Linked DNA regions of Homo sapiens: region 1 is linked to region 2. Evidence: fine-mapped expression QTL. A gene starts in region 2. The other region holds a variant in brackets. All regions are shown on one strand. Distances are between the middles of the regions.

Evidence for each region.
Region 1: its variant is fine-mapped to the expression of DMPK in whole blood (INTERVAL, PIP 0.93).

The regions. Positions count from the first base shown.
Region 1 is chr19:45,752,641-45,758,000 of GRCh38, reverse strand. It overlaps MEIOSIN (meiosis initiator), which reads right to left. Exons shown (of 15, transcript NM_001310124.2): 6 at 4,213-4,350; 7 at 3,277-3,522; 8 at 1,923-2,031; 9 at 724-824. Among named protein-coding and RNA genes, the nearest start is that of DM1-AS, 12 kb to the left of the region's middle. The variant T/C (reference allele first, on the strand shown) is at 3,235.
Region 2 is chr19:45,779,178-45,784,490 of GRCh38, reverse strand. It overlaps DMPK (DM1 protein kinase), which reads left to right and starts at 2,001. Exons shown (of 15, transcript NM_004409.5): 1 at 2,001-2,298; 2 at 4,622-4,713; 3 at 4,969-5,052; 4 at 5,132-5,227. The coding sequence starts at 2,139. It overlaps DMWD (DM1 locus, WD repeat containing), which reads left to right. Exons shown (of 5, transcript NM_004943.2): 5 at 201-1,544. The coding sequence ends at 248. RefSeq lists a silencer at 4,770-4,939.

The DNA of each region.
Region 1 (5,360 bases), 27 kb after region 2:
GATTCTGAGGTCGGGAGCAGGGGCACGTGCCTGTAATCCCAGCACTTTGAGAAGCTGAGGCAGGACGATCCCTTGAGTCCAGGAATTGGAGGCCTCAGTGAGCTGTGATTGCGCCACTGCACTCCAGCCTCAGGGCGAGAACTTGTCTCAAAAGAAAAAACAAAACAAAAACACAAAAAGAGTTCGGAGGGGTGGTTCATGCCTGTAATCCCAACACTTTGGGAGGCTGAGGCGGGCAGATCACCGTAGGTCAGGAGTTTGAGACCAGCCTGGCCAACATGGTGAAACCCCATCTCTACTAAAAATACAGAAATTAGCTGGGCATGGTGGTGGGCACCTGTAATCCCAGCTACTCGGGAGGCTGAGGCAGGAGAATCACTTGAACCCAGCAGACAGAGGTTGAAGTGAGCTGAGACTGCGCCACTGTACTCCAGCTTGGACGACAGAGTGAAACCCTATCTCAAAAAAGAAAACAAACAAACCAAAAAGACCCAGAATGATTCTGAGGCCATGTCTGGGCTCAAGGAAAGAGTGGTGATTGATTGTCAAGCCTCCGTGGCAGCGGTGGCGGAGAGCTGGCAGGTGCACTGTGTGTTTGCCTTCCCTGTGCTTAGGGGATCTCCATTCCCTTTCCCGCCTCCTCTCTTCCATAGACATCCTCAGACTGAAAGTATGGGAAGGCCCACACCAGCCTACAAGGAGGAGAGACAGAGTTGCAGTCACCTTGGGGGCTGTTCTCTGGGGTCCAGGCAGGGAGCCAAGGGTCAGCGTCTAGGGACCCTTTGTCCACATCCTCGCTGGAATCATAGAACACCAGCTTCTGCCTGCAAGAGGTGGAGTTTCAGAGTCAGACTCACAGACTCTGGGCTAGAAACTGCTATGGGGCCCCTTTGGCACTCTGCACTGGCCCCTGGGGGAGTGCTGGGGGTGTAAAGCTCAGTCAGTCGAGGCTCCCATCCTCAGGGAGCTTACAGTCTCATGAGGATAGCCCAGCCCGTAAGCAGTGCTGTGACCGAGGGCGCTGGAGGATGATGAGCCAGTGGAGAGCAGTGGGCTCAGCCTGAGGGATGGGCAGTTTTCCAGGGGCACAGGGAAGCAGGCTATCCAGGAAGAAGTACTGGAATGTGAGAAGCTCAGAGGGGCTGGCGCAGGGCTTCTGGGGAATGGCAAATGTGTGGCAGTGTGAAGTATAAGAGTCATGGGTGAAGGGCAGGAGAGAGGGCTGACGAGGTGAGTTGGGGGCCACTGAAGGTCTCAAAGGCCAGGTGAAATATCCGGGCCGGGTGCAGTGGCCCATACCTATAATCCCAGCACTCTGGGAGGCTGAGGTGGGAGGATTGCTTGAGCCTACGAGTTCAAGACCAGCCTAGGCAACATAGGGGGACCTCATTTCTACAAAAAATAAACATAAAAAAATTAGCTGGGTGTGGTGGTGTGCACCTGTGGTCCCAGCTACTCAGGAAGCTGAGGCAGGAGGACTGCTTGAGCCCTGAAGGTTGAGGCGGCAGTGACCTATGATTGTGCCACTGCTCTCTGGCCTGGGCGACAGAGTGAGACCCTGTCTCAAACAAACAAACAAACAAAAATATTGGACTCTATGCTGCAGGCCTGAGGAAGGGCTTTAAGCCACAAACTCCGTGGTCAACGTCTCTGTGTTGGAAAAGCCATGTGGTCACATGAGGATGGGATGGAGGGGCAACAGGTGAGGCAAAGAGACTGGTGAGGAAGCTGTGACCATGTCTGGGAAATGGGAAGTCAGGCTTTCCTGCGAGCTCACAATGGCAGACACAAAGCTGGGCCTCCATTGGTGCTCAAGGGGCACCCGCAGAGGACGTGACTTGGCCTGTCTTCCCACTACCCCTCACCCACGCCAGACCAAACCCCTCAGCACCACTCACTCAGTGCCCTGGGGACGCCCTTACCTGGGATGGGGCTGGGTCTTGTTGAGAAAATGGATCCTCGCCACATCTTCCTGAGCCAGGAGCGCAGGGAAAGGTGCGTCATCCTGGACACTGCCCTGGCACCAGCAGCCTAAGGGGCAGATCAGGATGACCATGCCTGGGGACTGGACCAAATTCCAGGAAGCCCAGAAGCAGGGGACAAAGGGGTGCCAGCTTCTGCCACACACCCTCTCACTCCCCAATCCTAGCCCAAACCTCAGGATGCAGGGTGTCACGTTGGTGTGAGGCTGAGGGGTGCCCCAAATCACCCCTGGGTTTTTTGAATCCCACATCCCTATCAGAAGCTGTAATGGGGGCTGGGCACCGTGGCTCATACCTGTAACCCCTGCACTTTGGGAGGCTGAGGCGGTGGATCACGAGGTCAGGAGTTCAAGACCAGCCTGGCCAACACGGTGAAACCCCGTCTCTACTAAAAATACAAAAATTAGCCGGGCATGGGTGCGGGCGCCTGTCCCAGCTACTCAGGAGGCTGAGGCAGAGAATTGTTTGAACCTGGGAGGTAGAGGTTGCAGTAGCCGAGAGTGCACCACTGCACTCCAGCATGGGCGACAGAGCAAGACTTTGTCTCAAAACAAACAAAAAACTCTAATGGGCCCGGCACAGTGCCTCACACCTGTAATCCCAGCACTTTGGGAGGCCAAGGTGGGCGATCACCTGAGATCAGGAGTTCAAGACCAGCCTGGTCAATATGGCAAAACCCTGTTTGTACTAAAAATACAAAAATTAGCTGGGCGTGGTGGTGCGCGCCTGTAATCCCAGCTACTCGTGAGACTGAGGCAGGAGAGTCGCTTGAATCCAGGAGGCAGAGGTTGCAGTGAGCCGAGATTGTACCACTGCACTCCAGCCTGGGCGACAGAGCAAGACTCCATCTCAAAAAAAAAAAAAAAAAGAAAAGGCTGAATGAACAAATAGAGGAACGAGATGACTTGAGGCCTCAAAGCCTCGAGCTCCGACCTCCCTCCCTCTGGCCTAGCTCTCTGCTTGAAAGCATCACCACACGTTTTCCAAACCAGTGCAGTGACTGGGGCATGGGAGAGCCAAGTGAGGCCTGAGGCGGAGGCCCTGCCCTCCTCCCTGGTTCTGTGATGGGAAGCCCACACAAGACAATGACGCTGATCTCATCCCCCCATTACAGCCACGACACAGCCTGAGATGAAGACCACCAGAGCAAGGCCACAAGCTTGAGAAGTAAGAGGCGGTGTTTCCTATTCACTGCTGCAGCCCCCACTACGGGTACTGTGTCTGGGACACAGCAGGTGCCCCCAGAGTGGCA[T/C]CTTACTGAAAGACTAAGTTCAGAGTGAGGAAAGAGACCCACTTGAGATGTCACAGTGGATGGTGTCCTCGGCCAGATCCAACAGCGTCAGCTGGGACTGTCCTCCTTTTCTGTCACCTGGAGGTGAGGATGATGCAGGCCTCGGGTGACCGCAGGAGTCAGGGCACCTTGGAGGGGTAGTGGTCCCCCCTGTGCCACTTCCTTTCTGGTCTGGGGATGGGGCCACCAGCTTCTCAGGCTTGTTCAGGGCCAGAGAGCGGCGAGGCTTCGGGGTCCGAGTCTGGCTTTCTGGGGGAGCAGAGGTTCAGGTGTCAGAGGGGCCTGGGAGTCACCTGCCTGTCACCAGAATAGGGTTCAGGTGGGAAACATCCTTGTCAGTGTCAAAGCTATGCCTGGCCTGGTATGGGAATGCCCAGATCCTCAATCACAGGCCTCTTTGTTCAACCCCTGTCCACCTGTCAGAATCATCTTGCGACCTTTAAAAAACACTGGCCAGGCGCAGTGGCTCATGCTTGTAATCCCAGCGCTTTGGGAGGCCGAGGCAGGCAGATTACTTGAGGTCAGGAGTTCAAGACCAGCCTGGCCAACATGGCGAAACCCTGTCTCTACTAAAAATACAAAAATTAGCTGAGCATGGTGGCACATGCCTGTAATCCCAGCTACTCATGAGGCTGAGGCAGGAGAATCGTTTCAACCTGGGAGGCAGAGGTGGCAGTGAGCTGTGTCACTGTACTCCAGCCTGGTGGACAGAGTGAGAGTCTCTCTCAAAAAAAAAATACTGATGCCCAGGTTCTGCCATAGACCAGTGAACCCCAAGTTTCCGGGTGTGAGGCCTCAGTGCTAATACAAGGAGGAGCTGGGAGTTGAACCCCGGCACAGGGTGCTGAGAAGGCCCCCAGAGTAAGGACATCCCTGGAGAAGGAGCCCTGCTCCTGGGTGACCTGGGCTTCTAGTTCTGCCTCCAGTGACAGCTTGTACCTGATGCCTGGGTCAGCTTCTTCTTCCGAGGCTTCTGGCACGCCCCCTGGAGACAGGACTTCTGAGAGCTTGGGGAGCTGGAGGGGGTAGAGTGTCTCCTCCGCCTGGCTGGGCCCCAGGCTGGTTTCTGACCCAGCCCTGCAGGGATGGAGAGGGAAACAGCTCAGATCCCCCACCCCATCTGCATCCAACTGCAGTTCCTGCCTTCCAGACAATGCTCCTCAGTCCCGGGTCAGGGTGGGCCCCCAGGCTGACTTTACAGTGTGGAAACTGAGGGCTTATCCAAGGCCGCTCAGTCAGGACTGTGAAAGTAGAGGGCAAGAACTCAGGTTTCTTCAGGGCTGTTTTGGGCCTTGGCTCAGTGGGAGAATGGAATCAACACTTCCCCAGACTGGGCACCTTGAGGATGCTTCACCCTCTCCCCGCCCACACCAGTACCTCCTCCCGCCTTCCTCAACACAGTGAGGGTCTCCTAGCCGACCCCCTCAAGGTCACTGGGGCCTTTCCCTCTGGCCTCTCGATTCTTCCTCATTAACATCTTCTAGGTTTACTCACTTCTATCCACATTCTCATCTACAGCGCTAGCTTGGGCCTAATTGTCCCGTCTAGATCACTCCGAACAGTGTCTTTCCTCATCTCCCTGACTCCAGTCTCTCACTTCATGACCAGTCCTCAACACTACATGTCAGGGACAAAAATTAGCTGGGTGTGGTGGCGGGTGCCTGTAATCCCAGTTACTTGGGAGGCTGAGGCAGGAGAATCGCTTGAACCCAGGGGGTGGAGCTTGCAGTGATCCGAAATTTCGCCACTTCACTCCAGCCTGGGCGAAAAGAGCGAGACTCCGCCTCAGAAAAAAAAAAAAAAAAAAAGAAGAAGAAACTATCTGAGTAAGAGCTTGCAGGCATGAGAAGACACGCGCGGGGTGTCTGGGGACAGGCAAGTCATTGGGTGTGATTGGAGGTCTGCGTGGCATGGAGATGATGTGTGTGGGCTCTGAGCCAGGCCCTGACTCAGGCTCATCTCTGTGACCTTAACCTCTCTGGGCTTCAGTTCCATCACCTGCAAAACAGGACCACATTAGCTTTTCCCTTCGGTATTTGTCCTGACGATTAAATGTGAGTTAATACATAGAAACAAGTCAGGCTTGG
Region 2 (5,313 bases):
CTGACTGCCAGGACAGGAAGCTAGCTAAGATGCAAGTTCCCAGCCTAGAGCAGTGGCCTCTGGGGGGTCTAGGGCGGACCCAAGGGCAAGGCCAGGGTGGCAGCAGCTTTGGGGACTCTGGGCTGGCTCCCTCCCCTTGACACTGGCTGAAGCCCAGGTGGTCTCTAACCCCTCCCATCTCTCCCTCTCATCTTCCCCAGGGCATCTCCTCCCAACCAGGCAACTCCCCGAGTGGCACAGTGGTGTGAAGCCATGGATATCGGGCCCCCCCAACCCCATGCCCCCAGCCTCCTAGCCATAACCCTCCCTGCTGACCTCACAGATCAACGTATTAACAAGACTAACCATGATGGATGGACTGCTCCAGTCCCCCCACCTGCACAAAATTTGGGGGCCCCCCAGACTGGCCCGGACACGGGCGATGTAATAGCCCTTGTGGCCTCAGCCTTGTCCCCCACCCACTGCCAAGTACAATGACCTCTTCCTCTGAAACATCAGTGTTACCCTCATCCCTGTCCCCAGCATGTGACTGGTCACTCCTGGGGAGAGACTCCCCGCCCCTGCCACAAGAGCCCCAGGTCTGCAGTGTGCCCCTCAGTTGAGTGGGCAGGGCCGGGGGTGGTCCAGCCCTCGCCCGGCCCCCACCCCAGCTGCCCTTGCTATTGTCTGTGCTTTTGAAGAGTGTTAAATTATGGAAGCCCCTCAGGTTCCTCCCTGTCCCGCAGGACCTCTTATTTATACTAAAGTTCCCTGTTTTCTCAGCGGGTCTGTCCCCTTCGGAGGAGATGATGTAGAGGACCTGTGTGTGTACTCTGTGGTTCTAGGCAGTCCGCTTTCCCCAGAGGAGGAGTGCAGGCCTGCTCCCAGCCCAGCGCCTCCCACCCCTTTTCATAGCAGGAAAAGCCGGAGCCCAGGGAGGGAACGGACCTGCGAGTCACACAACTGGTGACCCACACCAGCGGCTGGAGCAGGACCCTCTTGGGGAGAAGAGCATCCTGCCCGCAGCCAGGGCCCCTCATCAAAGTCCTCGGTGTTTTTTAAATTATCAGAACTGCCCAGGACCACGTTTCCCAGGCCCTGCCCAGCTGGGACTCCTCGGTCCTTGCCTCCTAGTTTCTCAGGCCTGGCCCTCTCAAGGCCCAGGCACCCCAGGCCGGTTGGAGGCCCCGACTTCCACTCTGGAGAACCGTCCACCCTGGAAAGAAGAGCTCAGATTCCTCTTGGCTCTCGGAGCCGCAGGGAGTGTGTCTTCCCGCGCCACCCTCCACCCCCCGAAATGTTTCTGTTTCTAATCCCAGCCTGGGCAGGAATGTGGCTCCCCGGCCAGGGGCCAAGGAGCTATTTTGGGGTCTCGTTTGCCCAGGGAGGGCTTGGCTCCACCACTTTCCTCCCCCAGCCTTTGGGCAGCAGGTCACCCCTGTTCAGGCTCTGAGGGTGCCCCCTCCTGGTCCTGTCCTCACCACCCCTTCCCCACCTCCTGGGAAAAAAAAAAAAAAAAAAAAAAAAAGCTGGTATAAAGCAGAGAGCCTGAGGGCTAAATTTAACTGTCCGAGTCGGAATCCATCTCTGAGTCACCCAAGAAGCTGCCCTGGCCTCCCGTCCCCTTCCCAGGCCTCAACCCCTTTCTCCCACCCAGCCCCAACCCCCAGCCCTCACCCCCTAGCCCCCAGTTCTGGAGCTTGTCGGGAGCAAGGGGGTGGTTGCTACTGGGTCACTCAGCCTCAATTGGCCCTGTTTCAGCAATGGGCAGGTTCTTCTTGAAATTCATCACACCTGTGGCTTCCTCTGTGCTCTACCTTTTTATTGGGGTGACAGTGTGACAGCTGAGATTCTCCATGCATTCCCCCTACTCTAGCACTGAAGGGTTCTGAAGGGCCCTGGAAGGAGGGAGCTTGGGGGGCTGGCTTGTGAGGGGTTAAGGCTGGGAGGCGGGAGGGGGGCTGGACCAAGGGGTGGGGAGAAGGGGAGGAGGCCTCGGCCGGCCGCAGAGAGAAGTGGCCAGAGAGGCCCAGGGGACAGCCAGGGACAGGCAGACATGCAGCCAGGGCTCCAGGGCCTGGACAGGGGCTGCCAGGCCCTGTGACAGGAGGACCCCGAGCCCCCGGCCCGGGGAGGGGCCATGGTGCTGCCTGTCCAACATGTCAGCCGAGGTGCGGCTGAGGCGGCTCCAGCAGCTGGTGTTGGACCCGGGCTTCCTGGGGCTGGAGCCCCTGCTCGACCTTCTCCTGGGCGTCCACCAGGAGCTGGGCGCCTCCGAACTGGCCCAGGACAAGTACGTGGCCGACTTCTTGCAGTGGGGTGAGTGCCTACCCTCGGGGCTCCTGCAGATGGGGTGGGGGTGGGGCAGGAGACAGGTCTGGGCACAGAGGCCTGGCTGTTGGGGGGGCAGGATGGCAGGATGGGCATGGGGAGATCCTCCCATCCTGGGGCTCAGAGTGTGGACCTGGGCCCTGGGGCAACATTTCTCTGTCCTATGCCACCACTCTGGAGGGGCAGAGTAAGGTCAGCAGAGGCTAGGGTGGCTGTGACTCAGAGCCATGGCTTAGGAGTCACAGCAGGCTAGGCTGCCAACAGCCTCCCATGGCCTCTCTGCACCCCGCCTCAGGGTCAGGGTCAGGGTCATGCTGGGAGCTCCCTCTCCTAGGACCCTCCCCCCAAAAGTGGGCTCTATGGCCCTCTCCCCTGGTTTCCTGTGGCCTGGGGCAAGCCAGGAGGGCCAGCATGGGGCAGCTGCCAGGGGCGCAGCCGACAGGCAGGTGTTCGGCGCCAGCCTCTCCAGCTGCCCCAACAGGTGCCCAGGCACTGGGAGGGCGGTGACTCACGCGGGCCCTGTGGGAGAACCAGCTTTGCAGACAGGCGCCACCAGTGCCCCCTCCTCTGCGATCCAGGAGGGACAACTTTGGGTTCTTCTGGGTGTGTCTCCTTCTTTTGTAGGTTCTGCACCCACCCCCACCCCCAGCCCCAAAGTCTCGGTTCCTATGAGCCGTGTGGGTCAGCCACCATTCCCGCCACCCCGGGTCCCTGCGTCCTTTAGTTCTCCTGGCCCAGGGCCTCCAACCTTCCAGCTGTCCCACAAAACCCCTTCTTGCAAGGGCTTTCCAGGGCCTGGGGCCAGGGCTGGAAGGAGGATGCTTCCGCTTCTGCCAGCTGCCTTGTCTGCCCACCTCCTCCCCAAGCCCAGGACTCGGGCTCACTGGTCACTGGTTTCTTTCATTCCCAGCACCCTGCCCCTCTGGCCCTCATATGTCTGGCCCTCAGTGACTGGTGTTTGGTTTTTGGCCTGTGTGTAACAAACTGTGTGTGACACTTGTTTCCTGTTTCTCCGCCTTCCCCTGCTTCCTCTTGTGTCCATCTCTTTCTGACCCAGGCCTGGTTCCTTTCCCTCCTCCTCCCATTTCACAGATGGGAAGGTGGAGGCCAAGAAGGGCCAGGCCATTCAGCCTCTGGAAAAACCTTCTCCCAACCTCCCACAGCCCCTAATGACTCTCCTGGCCTCCCTTTAGTAGAGGATGAAGTTGGGTTGGCAGGGTAAACTGAGACCGGGTGGGGTAGGGGTCTGGCGCTCCCGGGAGGAGCACTCCTTTTGTGGCCCGAGCTGCATCTCGCGGCCCCTCCCCTGCCAGGCCTGGGGCGGGGGAGGGGGCCAGGGTTCCTGCTGCCTTAAAAGGGCTCAATGTCTTGGCTCTCTCCTCCCTCCCCCGTCCTCAGCCCTGGCTGGTTCGTCCCTGCTGGCCCACTCTCCCGGAACCCCCCGGAACCCCTCTCTTTCCTCCAGAACCCACTGTCTCCTCTCCTTCCCTCCCCTCCCATACCCATCCCTCTCTCCATCCTGCCTCCACTTCTTCCACCCCCGGGAGTCCAGGCCTCCCTGTCCCCACAGTCCCTGAGCCACAAGCCTCCACCCCAGCTGGTCCCCCACCCAGGCTGCCCAGTTTAACATTCCTAGTCATAGGACCTTGACTTCTGAGAGGCCTGATTGTCATCTGTAAATAAGGGGTAGGACTAAAGCACTCCTCCTGGAGGACTGAGAGATGGGCTGGACCGGAGCACTTGAGTCTGGGATATGTGACCATGCTACCTTTGTCTCCCTGTCCTGTTCCTTCCCCCAGCCCCAAATCCAGGGTTTTCCAAAGTGTGGTTCAAGAACCACCTGCATCTGAATCTAGAGGTACTGGATACAACCCCACGTCTGGGCCGTTACCCAGGACATTCTACATGAGAACGTGGGGGTGGGGCCCTGGCTGCACCTGAACTGTCACCTGGAGTCAGGGTGGAAGGTGGAAGAACTGGGTCTTATTTCCTTCTCCCCTTGTTCTTTAGGGTCTGTCCTTCTGCAGACTCCGTTACCCCACCCTAACCATCCTGCACACCCTTGGAGCCCTCTGGGCCAATGCCCTGTCCCGCAAAGGGCTTCTCAGGCATCTCACCTCTATGGGAGGGCATTTTTGGCCCCCAGAACCTTACACGGTGTTTATGTGGGGAAGCCCCTGGGAAGCAGACAGTCCTAGGGTGAAGCTGAGAGGCAGAGAGAAGGGGAGACAGACAGAGGGTGGGGCTTTCCCCCTTGTCTCCAGTGCCCTTTCTGGTGACCCTCGGTTCTTTTCCCCCACCACCCCCCCAGCGGAGCCCATCGTGGTGAGGCTTAAGGAGGTCCGACTGCAGAGGGACGACTTCGAGATTCTGAAGGTGATCGGACGCGGGGCGTTCAGCGAGGTAAGCCGAACCGGGCGGGAGCCTGACTTGACTCGTGGTGGGCGGGGCATAGGGGTTGGGGCGGGGCCTTAGAAATTGATGAATGACCGAGCCTTAGAACCTAGGGCTGGGCTGGAGGCGGGGCTTGGGACCAATGGGCGTGGTGTGGCAGGTGGGGCGGGGCCACGGCTGGGTGCAGAAGCGGGTGGAGTTGGGTCTGGGCGAGCCCTTTTGTTTTCCCGCCGTCTCCACTCTGTCTCACTATCTCGACCTCAGGTAGCGGTAGTGAAGATGAAGCAGACGGGCCAGGTGTATGCCATGAAGATCATGAACAAGTGGGACATGCTGAAGAGGGGCGAGGTGAGGGGCTGGGCGGACGTGGGGGGCTTTGAGGATCCGCGCCCCGTCTCCGGCTGCAGCTCCTCCGGGTGCCCTGCAGGTGTCGTGCTTCCGTGAGGAGAGGGACGTGTTGGTGAATGGGGACCGGCGGTGGATCACGCAGCTGCACTTCGCCTTCCAGGATGAGAACTACCTGGTGAGCTCCGGGCCGGGGTGACTAGGAAGAGGGACAAGAGCCCGTGCTGTCACTGGACGAGGAGGTGGGGAGAGGAAGCTCTAGGA